2 linked regions of the Homo sapiens genome follow. Each later gene encodes a partner of the first gene's protein in a complex. Each region holds a gene or a part of one and is shown on either strand. Other genes may lie near its edges.

What was found.
Region 2: the proteins of FKBP4 (region 1) and HSP90AB1 are in contact, whole or in part, in a crystal structure (PDB 1QZ2), measured with the Homo sapiens proteins. Residues at the interface, in NP_002005.1 of Homo sapiens: Lys282, Asn324, Met327, Lys354, Arg358, Lys387; in NP_001258898.1 of Homo sapiens: Met720, Glu721, Glu722, Asp724.

What each region holds. Positions count from the first base shown.
Region 1 is NC_000012.12:2,788,686-2,798,851, forward strand, and holds the start of FKBP4 (peptidyl-prolyl cis-trans isomerase FKBP4), read left to right. Parts: upstream 1-6,284; 5' UTR 6,285-6,454; coding exon 6,455-6,559; intron 6,560-7,255; exon of another isoform or gene 7,256-7,683; intron 7,684-8,191; exon of another isoform or gene 8,192-8,261; intron 8,262-8,452; coding exon 8,453-8,597; intron 8,598-9,043; coding exon 9,044-9,186; intron 9,187-10,020; coding exon 10,021-10,141; intron 10,142-10,166. UniProt on the Homo sapiens protein: Immunophilin protein with PPIase and co-chaperone activities. Component of steroid receptors heterocomplexes through interaction with heat-shock protein 90 (HSP90).
Region 2 is NC_000006.12:44,240,386-44,250,934, forward strand, and holds the start of HSP90AB1 (heat shock protein HSP 90-beta), read left to right. Parts: upstream 1-6,715; 5' UTR 6,716-6,810; intron 6,811-7,557; exon of another isoform or gene 7,558-7,694; intron 7,695-8,231; exon of another isoform or gene 8,232-8,244; coding exon 8,245-8,391; intron 8,392-8,991; coding exon 8,992-9,198; intron 9,199-9,289; coding exon 9,290-9,449; intron 9,450-9,635; coding exon 9,636-9,769; intron 9,770-9,905; coding exon 9,906-10,214; intron 10,215-10,549. UniProt on the Homo sapiens protein: Molecular chaperone that promotes the maturation, structural maintenance and proper regulation of specific target proteins involved for instance in cell cycle control and signal transduction. Undergoes a functional cycle linked to its ATPase activity.

The sequences.
Region 1 (10,166 bases):
GGTCAGAAGAGTCGTTACTATTGGAGATGACGATTGACTGGGAGGGAACATCCAGGAGCCTTAAGGGTGCTGACATTTTCTACATCTTCATCTGGGTGACAGTTTTGTGGACACATACATATGGAAAAATGTATCAAGCTATACATTTAAGATATATGTTTTGTCCTTTTAAAAGTAAGTAAATATGATTTTCCATATTTCAAGCTCTTTCTCAAGTTCTAGCTCTTTGTGAGGACTTCCCAGAATACTTTTTCCAGATGCTGCCATTCTGCACTTTGAAACTGTGCCACACTGGCTAGTCCTGGGTTCTGCTCTACTTCTCTTTATAGGCAAGCTCCTTAAGGGAAGGTAGATTATGTCACAGACTCTGCACTCCACAGCCTCTGGTACAGACCTAGGAACCTAGTAGGTGCTCAATAAACATCTTTCCACCGGCTGGCCATCTACAGGAAGTATAAATTTGCGGGGGGAGGGGGCAAGCCCTGAGGACAGGGGCTGTGGGACGTTCTCCATCATTTTCCCCTCAAGGAAAGGAAAGAGAGGATGGTTGGGGTGCCACATAATTAATCAATGAAGCCCCTAGCAAACAAGGGCCCCTTAAAAAAAAAGATACCCCTCTTCTCCAAGGGCGTATGAGTCTAACGAGGGACAGATTGGTCTATCCAGGAATCTATGTGAGAATCCCCACCCCTGGCCAGGGCTTCCAGCAACCTTTCTTCCCATGAGAAAATTAAACCTGAGGAGGTAAACCCAACGAAAAACCAAAATAACTCCCCCAGAGGAGGCTACTCGTAGAGAGAAGGGCTACGTAACATCTCATCTGTGAGCCTATGTGAAGAGTGAGACTCAGAGATACAGTGAATACACATTTTGGCTAAATGCTAAAGGGACACATATTTAAGTCAATATCTGACTAAACAAAAACTATTACCAACAAAGAATGAACTTCCAGGATACAAGAATAAATATGAACTCTCAAATAAATTATTGTTCCTATTACAATTCATACCTTTTTTAAAAGTTAGCAGACTGATCATAGAAGTTGGATGTTATAGTGAAGGAACAATGATGTCTTAATTTCTCAATAATGACAGCTGCTGGATTGCTCTTGTGATCACTGCAGTGCACATTTATGATATTAAATATACATTTACTTTCAACTGAGGATGATGGACGTTCAGACTATTTTTCCCAAGTGGCAATCCATGTCCTAGTTATGCTAATTAGATATGATAATAACCTAGACACATACATGATGCTTTTTCATATGTAAAATTTTGTGTTTAGTTTTTGGTAGAGACAGGGTCTCACTATGTTGCCCAGGATGGTCTTGAATTCCTGGCCTCTAGCAATCCTCCTGCCTCAGCCTCCCAAGGTGCTGAGATTACAGGCATGAGCCACTGCACCCGGCCACGTGATCCTTGATCACACACAAGTTCAAGGAAGACAGAAATAATGCTGAAATCAACCTTTGGCTATTTGACCCTCTGAAGATCCAGGCCAAAGCCAAATTTCAGTGCATCCACAGATACAGTAGGATGAAGATTTGCTACTTCCTATCTCCCCAAGAGCAAAACAGAAATATGCGTATTTATCAGAAGGAAGAAATTAGATTTTATAAAAGGAAACAAGCTTTGTTTCAGCAGGACAACCACCAAATATCCCATTACCTCCTCTCAAGGAGATCAGCTAATGGTGGGATTCATGGAAGTGTTGACACCAAGTCTACCTTTAAGGGGCTTTCAGTCTTGTTGGAATGACAGAATATCAGCAGGTGAAGCTACTGTGAGTTACATGAGATAGTCAAGTTCATAGTCAAGTGTCCAGGTGCATAAAGCACAGATGTAATTTAACATTAGAAGAGAAGCACTCCTCTGGAACTAATGGAGCAAAGCCTTATCTAGACCAGTGGCTTTCAACTTCAGGGCTGGAGTCTTCCACATCTTCAACTGCGTATTCCAAGGCCCGGGTCCTGTGGCTCATGTCTGTAACCCCAATACTTTGGGAGGCTGAGGCGGGCAGATCACCTGAGCTCAGGAGTTCGAAACCACCCTGGGCAACATAGTGAGACCCCGTCTCTACAAAAAATAAAATTACTGGGTGTGGTGGCATGTACCCGTAGTCCCAGCTACTTGGGGGACTGAGGTAGGAGGATTGCTTGAGCTCGGGAGATTGAGGCTGCAGTGAGCCATGTTCACGCCACTGCACTCCAGCCTGGGTGACAGAGCTCGAGAGCCTGTCTCAAACAAACAAAAAACACAACTGCATATTCCAGCAATCAACAGGCTGAAATGTGGCACACACACTACCACTCACCTACGCCCTGTGTACCATATACAAGTTCAGGTACTTCACATGTAATATCCCATTGCCAGTCTCAGTGGCTCACACCTGTAATCCCAGCACTTTGGGAGACCAAGGAGGATCACTTGAGTTCAGGAGTTCAAGACCAGCCTGGGCAATACAGGGCGATCCCATCTCTACAAAAAAAATTTTTTTAAGTTAGCCAGGCATGGTGGTCTGTGCCTGTGTAGTCCCAGCTATTCCAGAGGCTGAGGTGGAAGGATTTGCTTCAGCCTGGGAGGCGGAGTCTGCAGTGAGCTGTGATGCACGACTGCATTCCAACCTGGGCGACAGCGTGTGACCCTGTCTCCAAAAAATAAATAACCCATTTAATCTTCAGAGAAAACCCCTGAGAGAAAGGCATTATCATGACAGCCATTTTAGGGACAAGGAAACCTTCCTCCAGGACTCACACGGTGAGTTCAATGATGAAGCTGAGATTTGAATCCAGGTAAAGAGCTTGTGCTGGAATTGGAATCCAGGAGAATCCAATCCAGAGCCCATGAGCTTAACCTTCACGCAGGTCTTCACTATGCACAGGCCTCACATAGGGGCCTACTATTTTTAAATTGTATGAAAATGGGACTAAAATCACTAACATAAATAAATGTTTTAAGAAGTATGTAGAGGCCGGGCACGGTGGCTCACGCCTGTAATCCCAGCACTTTGGGAGGCCGAGGCAGGTGGATCACGAGGTCAGGAGATGGAGACCATCTTGGCTAACACGGTGAAACCCCGTCTCTACTAAAAATACAAAAATTTAGCCGAGCATGGTGGTGGGCAACTGTAGTCCCAGTTGCTTGGGAGGCTGAGGCAGGAGAATGGCATGAACCCGGGAGGCGGAGCTTGCAGTGAGCAGAGATCACGCCACTGCAGTCCGGCCTGGGCAACAGAGCGAGACTCCGTCTCAAAAAAAAAAAAAAAAAAAAAAGAAAGAAAGAAATATGTATTTTTTGGTCAGTAGAGTTTCTATTTTCTCAATCAACAGACACCAAAGTTAACAAGAAAATATGTAAAGGTCTTTAACGGCTTTTTTTTTTTTTGGCATTACATTTTTGACAAATTATACTGGGAACATTCTAACTTAGGCTGGGTGACAGATTTCCAGCTTTCATTGTACTGGTATACTGCATAACATGTATGCATACATGAACACACACACCTATATGCATTTCAGTCTTTTGAACGATCCAAATATCATACAATTATTTGGATGTTAAGTGCATTGGCAGCCTAGGAAGGTCAAGATATGAACTGTAGAAACAAGGGGTCTTCATGTGTAAATGATGGGCCCAGAGTTTGGGATCTGAGCCAGGTCAGCTCTAAGAGGCTCAGTGTGACGAAAACAAAGTTTCTGATCCCAGCAGGAGTCACCTACAGATAAGGTGGATGAGAAAAAGTGTGCTGACTTCCTCCCGCAAAAAAAGGGGACATTTTGGAAGAATTTCGAGTGGTACCGGTTACACATCTTTAATGAGAATACTAACTTAAATGGCCTGGGGAAAGGGTGAGGAGATAGAGGAAAGAGACTAAAACACGTGCACACTTTCTACAGTATATGTACTTTTTATGATCAGAAAAATATCACATAAACGACCAGGAAATATTCTAAGAGAAACAGTAAGTTCCTGCTCCAGGATTCAAGACCCCTAGTTTCCTCCTGTGGTTTCTCCTAGTTTCTGCCTGTGGTCCCCTAGTTTCCTCCTTCACTGTGTGGGGACAGAGCTTCTCACCGGGAACCTTGCCCTCTTGCCCTTCCCTGTCTCACAGACCTCTGTTTTCTTAGCCCTTTGTCCCCATCTCCACTGCAGCGCCTATCAGATCACACTAAAACGACCGTTATTTACCAGCTGCGGAGTTGGAGGCGAGGACTGAGCTAGATACCATACACAGATTCCCGCTTTTTTAACCATTAAATCACCCTCTTTTACAAATGTTACTATCTCTATTTTACAGACAAGAAATCGAGACATGAAGATTAACTAACCTGCCCCAATTTAAACAGCTAACATAACACATGGGCCGCCCAACGTCCCTTACTCCAAAGCACATGCTCATTCCACTAGGGTATTAGGCTATGTGTTAATGTAACGGCAGGCAATCTGAAGGGCTCCACTATGTACGTGCCGAACAGAATTAAAGGGGGGGTCCCACACTGTCCGCTTCCGATGAAGAAAAAGACGCAGAAAAGAAACCGCCACACGTGGAGAATCAGTAGGTGCAAGCCAAGGACAGTTTGCGGTAAACTGCCACCCCGGAAGCCAGCACCCACCATCCTGGTCTCCCGGAGTTTGGGTGACCCCTGGCACTGTTACTTCTGCATAAAAGTAGTGGATTTAACCCCTACAGAGGCAGCGCCCCGTATCCTCTGAAGCTGTCTCCAGCCACCTAAAGAGACGTCTTCATTATGGCTCAACTCATTTGGGCTGTAAATTGCTGAAGCGAAGGGCTTTTTCTTCTGCATCCCTTTCAAGTTCCGTCGGCAGGGACTACAATAAATCATCACATTATGACGCTGAAAGTTCATCTCTAAAAAGCTTTCAATTTAGTTTGATGAGACTAATGGCGTCCAATCGCACAGTGCCGGGCACATAACGGGAAGTCCAAAAATACAGTTATTATTGGAATAAAAATTCAGGCTGGGCGCAGTGGCTCACGCCTGTAATCCGAGAACTTTGGGAGGCCGAGGCGGGCGGATCATTTGAGACCAGATGTTCGAGACCAGCCTGGGCAACATGGCGAAACCCCGTCTCTACTAAAAATACAAAAATTAGTCGGCGTGGTGGCGGACGCCTGTAGTCCCGGCTACAGAGAGCCAAGATCGCACCACCGCACTGCAGCCTGGGCGACAGAGCAAGACCCTGTCTCAAAAAAAAAAAAAAAAGAAAAAAAAATCAGCCAAGACTTGGAAAAAGAAATTTAAAAAAGGAAAATTCATGCAGCCAGTAACTATTGGGACATCACTCACCAGGCACTATGCTAAACTGGGGTTAGGTGCTGAGCAAAACCAGGCCCCTCTCTAGATGGCTCTCTAGGTCCCACGACCATAGCTTAGGTGACACCGGCACCTGCGCGCTCCACAGCCTGTCGAAAAACACTCGGGAAGCAAACATTGAGAAGAAAATACTCCTTCTGTGGGCCTTTAGGAAAACCGAGTGACTTTTTTCGTGAGGGGAACCCATCTTTGTAAGCATTCGCGGAAACGGCAGTTTTATTACCGCCGGGAAGGGTCCCCTGAGTGTGTGCCCCATCTGAGTTCCGAGCTGGGCGGGCCATGCCTTGCCAACCCCGCTGCTCGCAGCATCTGCAGGCGCTGAGCGAGGCATCGCTGCCTGGCCGGGGCTTCTCGGATCTGGGGAAATCGAGGTCGCTTTCCCCGGCTCTCTGCAGCGGGGCAGCGCTGTCCACTCACTCCCCGCTCCCCGCGCACGCCCTTGCCCTCTTTCCCCCAAGTAGGGAAGGGTCTACGCGGGTCATAGCAGAGAGGCCACGCCGCCCGTGGTGACGGCCGGTCCCGGGGAGGGGGCGCCGCCACTGCCATCCCGCAGCCTGCGCTCCCCACACCCCGCCGCAGGCGCAGCGGACTGGTGGAGTGATGTCGGGAGATCGATCGAGAAGAATCTGGAAGAATCCGGTTAGACAGGGAAGCGGGCGGGGATGGGAGGGAGGGAGGAAGGGCCAAGGGAGGCCGCCGGGGAGATCCCGAGTCCGAGGGTCCCAGGAGAAGGGGGAGGGGGCAGGCAGCCAGAAGGAGGCAAGAACCAAAAAAAAAAAAAGAAAAAAAAATTCCGAAGCGCCCGCAGCACTGAGCCCGAACCGGCTCAGTCCCGCCGTCTCTAGAAAGTTCTGCACCCCGCCCCCTCTGTCTGCGCTCCCGCTCCTCCCAGCCCCTCCCTCGCGGCGGGGCGGGACCAATCGCTCCCCGAGCCGCTCCTGACCCACCTACCCCAGCTCTCGCGCCGCGTGCAGAGGTGCTCAAGCCTCCTCGCGGTCCGCAGTCAGTGCCGCCGCGCCCGGCCTCCCGCACGCCCCGCAGGTAGCGCCCCCGCCCGCGGCCCAGAGTGCGCTCGCGCCGGCACCAGCTCCCGGATAAACGGCGCGCCGCGCGGAGATGACAGCCGAGGAGATGAAGGCGACCGAGAGCGGGGCGCAGTCGGCGCCGCTGCCCATGGAGGGAGTGGACATCAGCCCCAAACAGGACGAAGGCGTGCTGAAGGTGAGGGGCGGCGGGGCCTGCGGAGGCGTCGGAACCCGGGGCCCCGCGGGCCGCCCTTCCGCCGCGCCCGGAGCCCGCGGCCGGGCACGGGTCGAGGCGGCCGCCTTTGCAGCCTCGCGGCCGTCCCGCCGGGGGCCGGTGGCATCGCCGTCCCGGACCGGGCTGCGTCGTTTAAGGCACCGAGGCCGGCCATGCGCTCGGCAGGGGGGCGGCCTAGGTGCGCGGGCCGAGGCCCCAGGCTCCCCAGCCGGCAGCGCCCGGGCCCGGGCAGGGGGTCGGGATTGCAGTGCCCACCCCGGCGCGCGCGGGGCGGCGGAGAGGGGCGGGGCGAGGCGACCGCCGCGGGCACCCGAGCCGCAGCCCGGGGCCAGGCCGGGCCTCCCACGCCACGCCGCCCCCGACCTCGCGGCCCCAGCGGAGCTGCCAGCCGCGGGCCGCCTCGTTGGTGGCGGTGCCAGGGCTCGCCCACCCGGGCGGTGGAACACGGGCCAGGACGGGGAGCGACTCCCCACAGTGCTTTCCTGGCCCTTCGGCCTTTGTGCGACGCAGGCGCGACAGGGTTCCGGCGCCCTCCCGGGGTCCCCTGCCGACGCCGGGACCCAGCGAGGTCCCCACTCGCCGCGCGGCGCCCCCTCCCTCGGCCCCGGGGAGGCCGGGCGCGGGGCATGCCGGGAGCTGTAGTCCCCTCCCCCCTCCGCCGCCTCCCGGAGCCAGGGCTGCGGGGTGTGGGGCGGGGAGGAGGCGCTCTGCTGTGGAGCCTGCCGCCGAGTGACCGCTCGACTACAAATAGCCTGGGGAGCTGCGGGGAGGGCATCTTGACCTGGGCCAGGACAACCTGCCTTGGGTCGGAGCAGGTTCCAGGGAGAATCAGAGATGGTGAATTCCCAGCCTGCGTCTTATGCCTTCTCCCCATCCGCTGCTGCGTCCTCATCCTGGCTTCCCACCGCTGAGCTCCGCGTGTGCGGCACCCACCTCAGGGGGCCTTTACCTGGTCCAGAAGTGCATCTGTCTTTGCACCAGATTATTGGGGACCTCAAGCGTCTGCTCCAGCGGCTCTCCTGTGGCATGTGACTTCCCCTTCTCGCTCCAGCGTCCTGCCGTTTTCTACGAGATTGTTATTCCAGGAAAGCTCATTTCCCCTTTGATCCATCATTCCTTCCCTTTTACCTTTCTACTCCTCAAAGCCCCTGTCTATTCTTCGTGGAAGCTTTCCCTTGGAGGGTAACCACACACCTACCAGGTGGCGCTAAAGAAGCCTTTACGTTTCTGGGAAATACTCCAGCCCTGGACTAACTACCAGAGGAATACTCAGCTCCCAAGTCAGAGTTTAAGGTCCCATGGAGAGCCTCCGGGTTCACCTATAACCTGGTTTCTTCCTTACCTGTTTTGAACTGTTTCTATTCTCTTCACTCATACTCCTCTCGCTCTCCTGTCTCCAAACCAGACCTTAGTCTGACGACCACTGGCATGAAGGAAGAAGGAGGAAGTGTGGCATAAATACTTCCCCCTTTGCCGATTATAATAATAATCTATTATTCAACCTTTTACTGGTCTAATCTTCCAACAACTGTAGGAGATAGGGATTATCATCACTGCTTTACAAATAAAGTGTGGAGAATTTTAAAAACTTACCATACAGCGGAAACTTGAACTCAGATCTCTCAGCCTTTTGTCTCCTTTTTCAAACCAAGTCTTGCTGCACCTCAAGAAAGACAAGAAGGTTAGTTGACTCATAAGCCAAGCTGCTAGTAACTGAATCTGGAGGGACAAGTAGGCAGAGGAGGATGAACACAGAGAAGTCCCTTTATGTTCCCTCTGGAGGCTTGCAGGCAGTGCTGGTGCCCCTTTCTGCCCCAAACCCTGGGGTACTCACTTTCTCCCCCTTCCTCCCAGGTCATCAAGAGAGAGGGCACAGGTACAGAGATGCCCATGATTGGGGACCGAGTCTTTGTCCACTACACTGGCTGGCTATTAGATGGCACAAAGTTTGACTCCAGTCTGGATCGCAAGGACAAATTCTCCTTTGACCTGGGAAAAGGTAGGCGTGGTCAGTGGGCTGGTAGGATAGGTTCGAGGTGGACACAAGCTGTCACAAGCAGAAACCATTTTCTCAGGACCAAGCTCAGGGAGGAATGGTTTATCACAGTCTGTTAACTCTTTCGGTCACTCTTTTTTTTTTTTTTCTACCGTTCTGTAACTATATTGATCTCTGTCTCCCCTTCTCCTCATCACCTCCCAACACCTTACTCCCCCTTCAAAGGTGGACTGTCTTGCATCTTAAACTCTTTTGTTCAGGGTCACGTGATCTTTTACAGTTCTTAGACCTGGTAGCACTTAATACAACCAGGTACCTCACCTTCTGGTCCCATTTCTAAAGGATGTCCAGCTTCCCCATGAGTGTGGTGCAGTAACTCTTCAGGAGCACTGTTTGAGCCCAGAATCAGAACCCTGCTAAGGCGGTCCTGTTTGCTTCTGTACCTGCAGGGGAGGTCATCAAGGCTTGGGACATTGCCATAGCCACCATGAAGGTGGGGGAGGTGTGCCACATCACCTGCAAACCAGAATATGCCTACGGTTCAGCAGGCAGTCCTCCAAAGATTCCCCCCAATGCCACGCTTGTATTTGAGGTGAGTGTTTGGTCACTGAGATCCAGGCTAAGAGCCAGGCCTTATCTCAGCCCAATGCCTGGCTGCCCTCCAGCCCTTCCTGCTTCTTGGAGACAATGTAGCCAAGGCTGAGGGTCTGGCCTTATGGGAGGAGAAATGCAGAGGGCTCTGCTGCTGCTAGTAATGGAAGTAATAGAAGCTTCGGGTGGGAAGAGGCAGGCACAAGCCCCTCTCCAGACTCAAAGCATGGTCAGGGTTAAGGCATCTTTATCTCCAGAGCGGTACCCAGAAGAATACTGAAAGGAGTCGGGATGTCAGAAACTATGTCCCGTTATAAATGGCAGTACAGAATATTGGTGCTCTAGAGACCAGAAGAGGGAGCAGTAGCTCCCCTGTGGGTCAAGGGCTGAGAAAAGGCTTCACTGAGGAGATAGAACTTGACATTGTTCAATCTGAAAATGGTTGAGCCAATCCGTGGGCCCTTGAATACTGAGAAACTGCTGAGAGATGTTGGGTAATCATTTCTAATACCTACCAGGTTGGGCTTATCAGGTAGTGTGAATTAGGATTATCTGGGACGCGTCCTGATATGTCCGTGTTAGTAGAGCAGGTAGCAAATAGATTGCTCTCCTCAGCTTAACTGAAATCTATGTAGTCTGCCCACCTCTACCAAAGTTGAGATTAGGGCAGCTCCCAAGAACTGAAAAAAAGTGCCACTCTACCCAACTCCTTGTGACTGCCCTTGTGGTCAGATCCGGCCTGGCAGTTAGTAGGGACTCTCTCGGATGAGAAAGATTGTGTTTCACTGCCCATGAGTTAGCATGGGAAGGAATTGTGTCACATCTTGTCCCACAGGTGGAGTTGTTTGAGTTTAAGGGAGAAGATCTGACGGAAGAGGAAGATGGCGGAATCATTCGCAGAATACAGACTCGCGGTGAAGGCTATGCTAAGCCCAATGAGGGTGCTATCGTGGAGGGTGAGACAGTACAGTCTGGGCTTTC
Region 2 (10,549 bases), on another chromosome or scaffold:
GCTGCAGTGGGCCATCAGCATGCCACTGCACTCCAGCCTGGGCGACAGAGTGAGACTCTGTCTCAAAAAAAAAGAGAAAAAAAAGTCTCAAATACAAAAGAGCCAGTAACATACACACCACATTGTATGTCTACAACATAATTAAAGGGTATATAAAAAATAATTGAAAATGTAAAACACTTTTAAATTGGTCAAAGAAGATACCATAAGAAATCAGAAAATCCTTAAAATTGAATTGTAATAAAATATTGAATATTATTTGAAATTTGTAATCTATGGAAATTTGTGGAATATAGTAAACATAGTACACAAGGAGAAATTTGTAGCCTTAAATCTTTATGTTGGAAAAACAGAAAGGCTGAAACTAATGTGTTAAGTACTAAAGTTAAGAAAATAGAACAATAACAACAGAACTAGGCAAGGCACGGTGGCTTACACTTATAATCCCAGCACTTTGGGAGGCTGAGGCAGGCGGATCACTTGAGGTCAGGAGTTCCAGACCACCCTGGCCAACATGGTGAAACCCTGTCTCTACTAAAAATACAAAAAAATTAGCAGGGTGTGGTGGCGTGCACACGCACCTGTTGTCCCAGCTACTAGGGAGGCTGAGGCAGGAGAATCACTTGAACCCAGGAGGTGGAGGTTGCAGTGAGCCAAGATCGCATCACTGCACTCCAGCCTGGGTGACAGAGCGAGACTCTGTCTCAAAAAAAAATAAAATAAAATAAACAGAAATTAAAGAAGTCAAAAACAAATATATAAATATAAGATAAGCAAACCTTTGGTGAAATTGTACAAGAAAAAAGAGATAAGACATGAAAAACAATTTTAGAAATGAAGACATACTTTATTTTTTAATGTTATTTATTTATTTATTTGAGACAGAGTCTCACTCTGTCACCCAGGCTGGAGTGCAGTGGTGTGATCTTGGCTCACTGCAACCTCCGCCTCCTGGGTTCAAGGGTCCTCCTGCCTCAGCCTCTCTAGTAGCTGGGATTACAGGTGCCTGCCACCACGCCTGGCTAATTTTTGTATTTTTAGTAGAGAAGGGGTTTCACCATTTTGGCCAGGCTGGTCTCAAACTCCTGGCCTCCGCCCACCTTGGCCTCTCAAAGTTCTGGGATTACAGGTGTGAGCCACCTTGCCTGGCAGAAGACGTACTTTAGATAGAAGAGAAATTGAAAAGATCGTAAGAGTCTGGGCATGGTGCCTCACGCCTATAATTCCAGCACTTTGGGAACCCAAGGCAGAAGGACTGCTTGAGCCCAGGAGTTTGAGACCAGCCTGGGCAACAGCACAAGACTCTGTCTCTACAGATAATTATAAAAATTAGCTGGACATGGTGGTGTTTGTTTTTTTTTTTTAATTTATAGCAAGTTAGGAATAAAAAGAGTAAATATGTTCAGCTGGGTGCGGGTGGCTCATGCCTGTATTCCCAGCACTTTGGGAGGCCAAGGTGGGAGGATCACTTGAGCCCAGGAGTTTGGGATGAGACCAGCCTGGGCAACATAGGGAGACCCTGTCTCTACAAAATAAAAAAATTAGCCAGGCATGGTGGTCCCAGTTACTTCGGGGGTTGAACTGGGAGGATCGCCTGAGTCTGGGAGGTTGAGGCTGTAGTGAGCTATGTATTACTGTACTTCAGCCCCCGCAACAGAACAAGACCCTGGACCCTGTCTCAAAAAACAAACAAACAAACAAAAAGTTCAATGGTGAAATGTTAGAAGCTTTCATTTTCTGATTAGGAATCAGACAGGGATGCCCAGAATCATTATTTCCACTCATCATTGTTCTGCAGGTCCTAGCTGGTGCATTAAAACAAGAAATAAGAGATACAAGAATCAGAAGAGGAGAAACCAAACTGTCATTGTTTTCAGATGATATGGTTGTACCTATAAAACACCAAAACTTTTATAGTCAAATTAAGAATTAATAAGCTAGCTTACCAACTTGCTCAATCAATAAACAAAAATTCAATTGCTCAATTGCTTTTTGAACTCTGGGAAACCGAAAATGAACAAAAATTTCCATTTTCTATGGCATCAAAAAAATAACAATACTAACAATACAGTGAGCAAAAATTATGCAAGAGACTTCCCTTGTGTTCTAGTGGAATGTGAAAATGGAGGCAAAGAGATGGAGTCCATGCTGGCTGTGCAGACCTGCCCAATTGTCCAATGCATCTGAATGTCAGGCTCACTAGTATTGGAGGGTGTCAGTTCAGGGTATTCCCTCAGGAATTCAGAGAGCTAAGGCTCGTGGAACTGGGAAGGCCCAGAAAGTAACGGGACACACCTGGCAGGCACTGAGCTTAAGAGGCTGCTTGTTCTAGGGGTTCAGGGTCCACAGCTACTCTCCATGCTCATATCTCTGATGTCCTGTTACCCTCAGTTGTTTTATTCGTTCACTGAGCTTTATTTAACTCCCCTCCGTGGCCTCTGTGAACCCTAGAGACTCTGTCCAGGCTGAGTCTCTGTGCTCCCTGCAAGACTTTGCTGAGCTTTATGTAGCTTAGGGGTCTGCAAACGTTTTCTGTAAAAGGCAAGAGAGTAAATGTCTTAGGGTTTGCAAGCGTTATGGTCTCTGTCACACCTATCGATTTTGACTTTATGTTACAGAAGCAGTCAAAGACAAGGGCTACGTTTCAACAAAACTTCATTAAAATTGGCCAGGCGCAGTGGCTCACGACTGTAATCTCAGCACTTTGGGAGTCTGAGGCGGGCAGATCACCTGAAGTCAGGAGTTCGAAACCAGCCTGGCCGACATGGTGAAACCCGGTCTCTACCAAAAATACAAAAATTAGCCGGGCGTGGTGGCGGGCGCCTGTAATCCCAGCTACCTGGGATGCTCAGGCAGGAAAATCGCTTGAACCCGGGAAGTGGAGGTCGCAGTATGCTGAGATTCTGCCATTGCACCCCAGCCTGGGAGACGAGTGAGACTCCGTCTAAAAAAAAAAAAAAAAAACTTCATGAAAACAGAAATTCAAATTTCATATAATTTTCCCATGTCAAAATAATATCTTTCTTTTGATTTTTTTTTCAACCATTATGAAGTGTAAAAACCCTTCTTAGCCCACAGGCCATTCAAAAAACAAGCAGCAGGCCCACCAGCTGCAGACCTTGGGTTGTTAATCCCTGCTTTAGCTGGCCACCCTCCGACAGCAGAAGGTTGGGCTGGGCCTAGGAGGTTTCATGGAGGAATAAAAGGGATCTGGGGAACATCAGTGGTTCCAAGGCTGGGAATAAGGCTTCGGACGGTGTAGTTTTTTTTTGTTTTGTTTTTGTTTTCTGAGACGGAATCTTGCTCTTATTGCCCAGGCTGGAGTGCAATAGCGCGATCATGGCTCACCGCAACCTCCACCTCCTGGGTTCAAGCGATTCTCCTGCCTCAGCCTCCTGAGTAGCTGGAATTACAGGCATGTGCCACCACACCCAGCTAATTTTGTATTTTTAGTAGAGACGGGGTTTCTCCATGTTGGTCAGGCTGGTCTCAAAACTCCTGACCTCAGGTGATCCGCCCGCCTTGGCCTCCCAAAGGTCTGGGATTACAGGCGTGAGCCACCCGTGCCCAGTCTGGAAGACATAGTTTTAAGCCTGTCTTTTATAACCTTCACTTCTCTCACTCTTAAGATCAGGACTTCTTACCAGTGGCATTTGCAGCCCTCTGCGACCTAACCCCCATCTGCAGGGCTACTTTCAACTCCTTGTGCTTCCCTTTGGGGTTCCTGAGCTATGGTTCCTCTAATGGGGCTCTGTTCCTTTCCATGCTTTCCATGTCATGGCCTGGCTAGGCATGGTCCTAAGACTGCTCCCTTTCCCAAGCTGAGCTGAGGGCCTCTGCGGCTTCTCCCATCCTCCTATGGTTCACACTTGGCTGCTGCAGCCTCCAGTGGGTTAAGGGCTCCCAGTCCTGTGTATGCATCTCTGCATCCCCAGGATCTCCACACAGTGGAGGCTTAGTGAGTGTCAATGAGTGGAAAACGATGGAGCTTGTGGACACAGGTAGGCGGTCTCCTGAAAGGCTTCCTGGAAGAGAAAGTGGAATTTCTTTTTTTTTTTTCTTTTTTGAGACAGAGTCTCACTGTGTCGCTCAGGCTGGAGTGCAGTGGCGTGATCTCGGCTCACGGCAACCTCTGCCGCCCGGGTTCAAGTGATTCTCCTGCTTCAGCCTCCCAAGTAGCGGGGACTATAGGCGCGCTACCACGCCCGGCTAATTTTTGTATTTTTAGTAGAGACAAGGTTTCACCAGAGTGGCCAGGCTGGTCTTGAACTCCTGACCTGGTGATCCGCTGGACTCGGCCTCCCAAAGTGCTGGAATTACAGGCATGAGCCACCGCGCCCAGCCCCCTTTTTTTTTTTTTTTTTTTTTTGAGACGGAGTTTCTCTTTTGTTGCCCAGGCTGGAGTGCAATGGCATGGTCTCAGCTCACTGCAGCCTCTGCCTCCAGAGTTCAAGCAATCTTCCTGCCTCAGCCTCCCAAGTAGCTGGGATTACAGGCATGTGCCACCACGCCCAGCTAATTTTTAGTAGAGACGAGGTTTTTCACCATGTTGGCCAGGCTGGTTGTGAACTACTGACCTCGGGTGATCCACCCACCTCGGCCTTCCAAAGTGCTGGGATTACAGGTATGAGCCACTGTGCCCAGCAGAGAAAGTGGAATTTCTATGCTGGTGTAACATTTGAGATTTTCCCATTTAGAAAGTCTTCAGGAAGCCGTCGAGTCTTGACACAGAAAGGATCCAGCTCAGGGGAAGCCCATCCACAGGAGTGATTCCTGCTTTGGATTTAGGTCCTAGGGGTGAGATCACATCCCTGCTCCATTTCTGGAGCAGAAAGGGAGCTAGTGCAGCAAGGACTCTGAGTAGACGGGCCTTGGGAGTCACTGAAGCCACTTCCCTGTTGACAGAATGTGCACACTGACTTTCATCCGCTCACAGGAGAGTGAGAGTTTGTGAATGCTCTCTGTGAACTGGGGAGCAGATTTTTAATGAGCTCTGCTTAGAAGGAGAGGACACGTTAAGGGATCACGCTCCCACTGGTTTGCGGTTTTGGTCAGGAATAGAGCACCCAACGCCCCTTCTTATAGACTTCTCCCAGCCATAGGCTTTTTGCAGACCATAATGAAAGGGAGAAAGGATATCCAATCGGGATGGTGATGGCAGGCATGGCGAAGTGGACAGGGACAAAGAAGAGGAAAGCAAGGGACACCCTTTGTTCTTTGGTATTCAACACATGAACAAAACTTGTTAACGAATCGTAGACTGGGTAACAACAGGGCTGGTGAGGGAGGACGATGTGGGTGGCTGTGGGGAAACTCTTCCCAAGCATCCCAGGGGTGGGCCAGGAAGGGGAGCAGATGGACATCTACAGGGCACAGAGCAGGGAGTGGCTATTCTCTCCTGGAGGGGTTGTGGGTCCAGCAGGCTTTCGGATGAGGCCTTGGAAAGGCAAGGACAGCTTGCCAACTGGAGGGCAGGCAAAACGGCTGAGCCAGGCCAGACACGGCAGCTCACTGGCCAGGGGCATGGCCTAGGGGCTCTGGTGCCAAGGCTGAAGGGGAACAACTTGGCCAGCCGCTCTGTGGCCGGCATCGTCACGCGGCCTCCAAGAGCTCCGGCTGCCCTGCACTGGTTCCCAGAGACTCCCTCCTTCCCAGGTCCAAATGGCTGCAGGAGCGAAGTGGGCGGAAAAAAAGCGAACCAGCTTGAGAAAGGGCTTGACGTGCCTGCGTAGGGAGGGCGCATGTCCCCGTGCTCCGTGTACGTGGCGGCCGCAGGGGCTAGAGGGGGGTCCCCCCCGCAGGTACTCCACTCTCAGTCTGCAAAAGTGTACGCCCGCAGAGCCGCCCCAGGTGCCTGGGTGTTGTGTGATTGACGCGGGGAAGGAGGGGTCAGCCGATCCCTCCCCAACCCTCCATCCCATCCCTGAGGATTGGGCTGGTACCCGCGTCTCTCGGACAGGTCAGAGCGGGTCGCCGGGTGGGGTCGCTGCAAAAACCCTGCCCCGGCCGCAGCCGGAGAGGCGGAGCCTCGCGGGGAGGGGGCGGGACCGCCGAGACAGGCCTGGAAACTGCTGGAAATGCCGCAGTGCCGCCGCCGCGCCTTCCGCCGCATGTCGGCAAAGAGTCCCCGCCAGCCCCGGCCGGCGCCCTCCCCCTACGCTGAGCTGCCCCTCAGCGCGAACCCTCCGCCCTTCCTCTACTCCTGCGAGAGTCGGGATCTGGGGCTACCCAAGGTTGGGTCCCGAATGCCAGTCCCTCTGTCGGGACGCGAGATGTGTAGGGCAGATGCTAGGAAGAAGATTGGGTCTGGGAGCGGTGGTCCGCGTGGTTAGCTGCCTCCGCTCTTTTTCGGTGTCCCCCCCAGTCCCGCCCTTGGGTGTGGGGACGCCTGCCCCACAAGTGTTTAGGGAGGTCAGTGGGTTCCTCGCCCGTAGAGACACCGTTTATGCCAAATGAGCACTCCTCATCCCCGCTCTTGATGGAGTCATGTCCTAGACGTGAAACTATGGGGCTGTGATCACAAGCAAATGTGTGGGCGGATCCGTTGCTTGGGTTCTTCCCCGCCCCCTCTTTTTTTCGGACCATGACGTCAAGGTGGGCTGGTGGCGGCAGGTGCGGGGTTGACAATCATACTCCTTTAAGGCGGAGGGATCTACAGGAGGGCGGCTGTACTGTGCTTCGCCTTATATAGGGCGACTTGGGGCACGCAGTAGCTCTCTCGAGTCACTCCGGCGCAGTGTTGGGACTGTCTGGGTATCGGAAAGCAAGCCTACGTTGCTCACTATTACGTATAATCCTTTTCTTTTCAAGGTAAGGCTGAGATCTCCGCTAGGCTTCTTTCCCTTTAGTGCTGTATTCGTGTTGTTTTTGTTTTTTTCTGTCCTTTAGGGAGCCTTAGTCTAGATGTCGGGGTGGCTTGTGGATAACGCTCTGGATTTTTATAGGGTGAGGGTAGTGGTGGGTGAGGTTTTTTGAGTCCTCCTCGGTTTTCTCTAGTGTGTTTGGGGGGTGGGGCTTTCTCTCGGCGCCTGCTGGCCGTAGCGAGGTGGGCTGTGGGGTTGGGGCAGTGGGCGGCTGGCAGCTGCACGTGGTGGCCGCGCGGCCCGGGACGCTGCCATTTTTGCCCCTCCACTTCCGGACGCGGCTACGGGGCGTCGGAGGGGGACCGCAGGGTGGCGGGGGTGCCCGCTCGGGTGACTCAGCACGGCCTTGTGGGACTGGCTTTGTCACCTCTCTTATCGGACGCGTTGTTAAAGCCTTCTTGGGTGCTTTGTTTCTGTGAGGGAGGGTTGACGGTGTGGGAAGAGAGCTTTCGGTCTCCAGCACCCGATACTCCCTCCTTCCAGATCTTTCTTGCAGTCCCGGTGGAGGAGGGGCGGGGAGGGGAGCAGGTTCTGGAAGATTCATGGGCTCCTTCCTCCGCCCTTCCTCGAGAGCTGAGATTGTTCTGGAAGCTTCTGGATTCTGGCGCCCCGCCCCAGTGCCCGGATGCTGGGGCGAGGGAGGGTGCACTGCGGCGCCCCCTCCTCGCGTGGTCCTGGCCGACGCATGTCCGGCAGTGACGAGTGTCGGCCTGGTGGCTACGGCCACCATCTTTCTTGGGTTTGGTCCTGTTCTGTAATTTTGTGCTGTGAAAGGGTCGTGGTGGAGCTTTTGGCTTAAGAATTCTTTGTCCGGATTTAATTGCTCCTCCGGTGGGTATCGTATGGATCCCAGGTTATTCCTCCCTGCCCTATGGGGCAGGAGTGTCCCGCCCTTGGACTGGTCTTAGGAACTGACACCTCAGGGGGAGCAGTTTAAAGTTAGTGCCATTTTTATCTTAAACTAGTCACTTTGATCTCCCCCAAATAAAGAACTGTAGGTAGTGATTTTCACATTTAAATTTGTGTAAGGATTACTTGGGATCTCTAGATACCTGGGTTGGACCAACATTATGATTTTTCTGCCATACTACCAGATGATGCTGAGGCTGCTGGTCACCATTCTTTAAGTAGGTGGGTTCTGTGACATTTGGTTGAAGAATATTTAGCTTATTTTCTTTTTCCTTCTGAATTTTCAGGCCTCCCACTTAGTGTGTAGTCTGAGATCTTTAAGAGAATGCATTTTTAGTCTTGGGAAGGGATAGTACTCCGGTTAAACCAGTCTGAACTCACTGTCTAAGGTCCTAACAAATGATATGACCTTTAGGATTTTTAAACATGGGGCCTTAGTGTTCTTTTGTAATTAATGAGATTTTTATTTTAGATGCCTGAGGAAGTGCACCATGGAGAGGAGGAGGTGGAGACTTTTGCCTTTCAGGCAGAAATTGCCCAACTCATGTCCCTCATCATCAATACCTTCTATTCCAACAAGGAGATTTTCCTTCGGGAGTTGATCTCTAATGCTTCTGATGTAGGTGCTCTGGTTTCCACATTTGGCATGGTTTTTTTTTTTGATACTCTAGAAGGAGGGGAAAGGAGTGGTTTGGCCTTTGTTGGGGACTACTATTGAAGGGGGTAAACTTGCAGCTATTCCAAAAAGATGGGTTTTACTCTGGCCATCTTGAACTTGGAAGGGACTATGTCCAGAATAAGTGGGCTCATGGAACTAACTGGTTCTAAAGCCTCAAGATAGGGGGCAATCAGATTTGAGGCTGAGAGAGGTAAACCAAGATTTTCTTTGAAGATACGGGCTTTAAGAAAGCAAAAGTGGCTGAGCGTGTTGGCTCACACCTGTAATGCCAAGGCAGGAGGATCACTTGAGCCTAGGATTTCGAGGGCAGCCTGGGCAACCGCGAGACCTTGTCTCTGCAAAAAATTAAATATTAGTTGGGCACGGTGGCATGTGCCTGTAGTCCCAGCTACTTGGGAAGCTGGGGTTGGGAGGATGGCTCGAACCTGGGAGGTCAAGGCTGCAGTGAGCTGTCATCCTTGCCACTGCACTGTAGCTTGGGCAACAGAGCAAGAGTCTGTCTTGGAAAGAGCAAAAGTAAGTTGCTGTTTGTATTTCCAGGCCTTGGACAAGATTCGCTATGAGAGCCTGACAGACCCTTCGAAGTTGGACAGTGGTAAAGAGCTGAAAATTGACATCATCCCCAACCCTCAGGAACGTACCCTGACTTTGGTAGACACAGGCATTGGCATGACCAAAGCTGATCTCATAAATAATTTGGGAACCATTGCCAAGTCTGGTACTAAAGCATTCATGGAGGCTCTTCAGGTATTGCAGTTCTGTAGGCATTCATACTTATCTGTGTTCTTTGGTTTTTTGCTTCTTTAAAACTTGTGATTGACTTTAAACTTGTTGGCAGGCTGGTGCAGACATCTCCATGATTGGGCAGTTTGGTGTTGGCTTTTATTCTGCCTACTTGGTGGCAGAGAAAGTGGTTGTGATCACAAAGCACAACGATGATGAACAGTATGCTTGGGAGTCTTCTGCTGGAGGTTCCTTCACTGTGCGTGCTGACCATGGTAAGTTAGCTTTTCTGTTACAAGGTAGTTGGGTTAGGATTTTCTGGGCTCACACCAGTAGCAGAAATTTTGGGCATCCTGTCTGTAAAGCAGTTCTTCACAGCAGTTCTGCTGATACTTACTAATTGCTGGTCTCAACTGCATATACTTTTTACCCTGTTACACGCTTGTAATTGACTCTTCTAGGTGAGCCCATTGGCAGGGGTACCAAAGTGATCCTCCATCTTAAAGAAGATCAGACAGAGTACCTAGAAGAGAGGCGGGTCAAAGAAGTAGTGAAGAAGCATTCTCAGTTCATAGGCTATCCCATCACCCTTTATGTGAGTATGGACTTTTAAATCTTTTACACTTAACGTGCAGGATGTTTCCTGTTCTGGAGAATCTCATTGTCCCTGGCTTTTGCTTTCCCTGGTAGTGTTTTGTACTCCAAGGCTAACTTCTGTTTTTGTTACTTAGTTGGAGAAGGAACGAGAGAAGGAAATTAGTGATGATGAGGCAGAGGAAGAGAAAGGTGAGAAAGAAGAGGAAGATAAAGATGATGAAGAAAAACCCAAGATCGAAGATGTGGGTTCAGATGAGGAGGATGACAGCGGTAAGGATAAGAAGAAGAAAACTAAGAAGATCAAAGAGAAATACATTGATCAGGAAGAACTAAACAAGACCAAGCCTATTTGGACCAGAAACCCTGATGACATCACCCAAGAGGAGTATGGAGAATTCTACAAGAGCCTCACTAATGACTGGGAAGACCACTTGGCAGTCAAGGTGTGAGAAGCCTTTGCATGTTGGCTCAACATGCACATATGGAGAGGAATGAGTTAGGTGGAAGAGTGTTGGGTAATAGACACACGGAACTTGTCCAACTGATAACAGAAATGTGATAGCCATGTGATTTCACTTACTGATTACCCTGTCATAGTGAAGTGCCATCATTTCTAATGACCTCACTTTCTCTTCTTATGGAAATCTGGGTAATGTCTATTGGCAGCCTTACACATCCAGGGTTCTGATCAGAGGGGACTGTTTTCTACATACAGCTAGTACCCATCTAGATCGTGGAGGGCATTAAGGCTCAGTTTTCTCAGGAGCTGCTTGTTGTG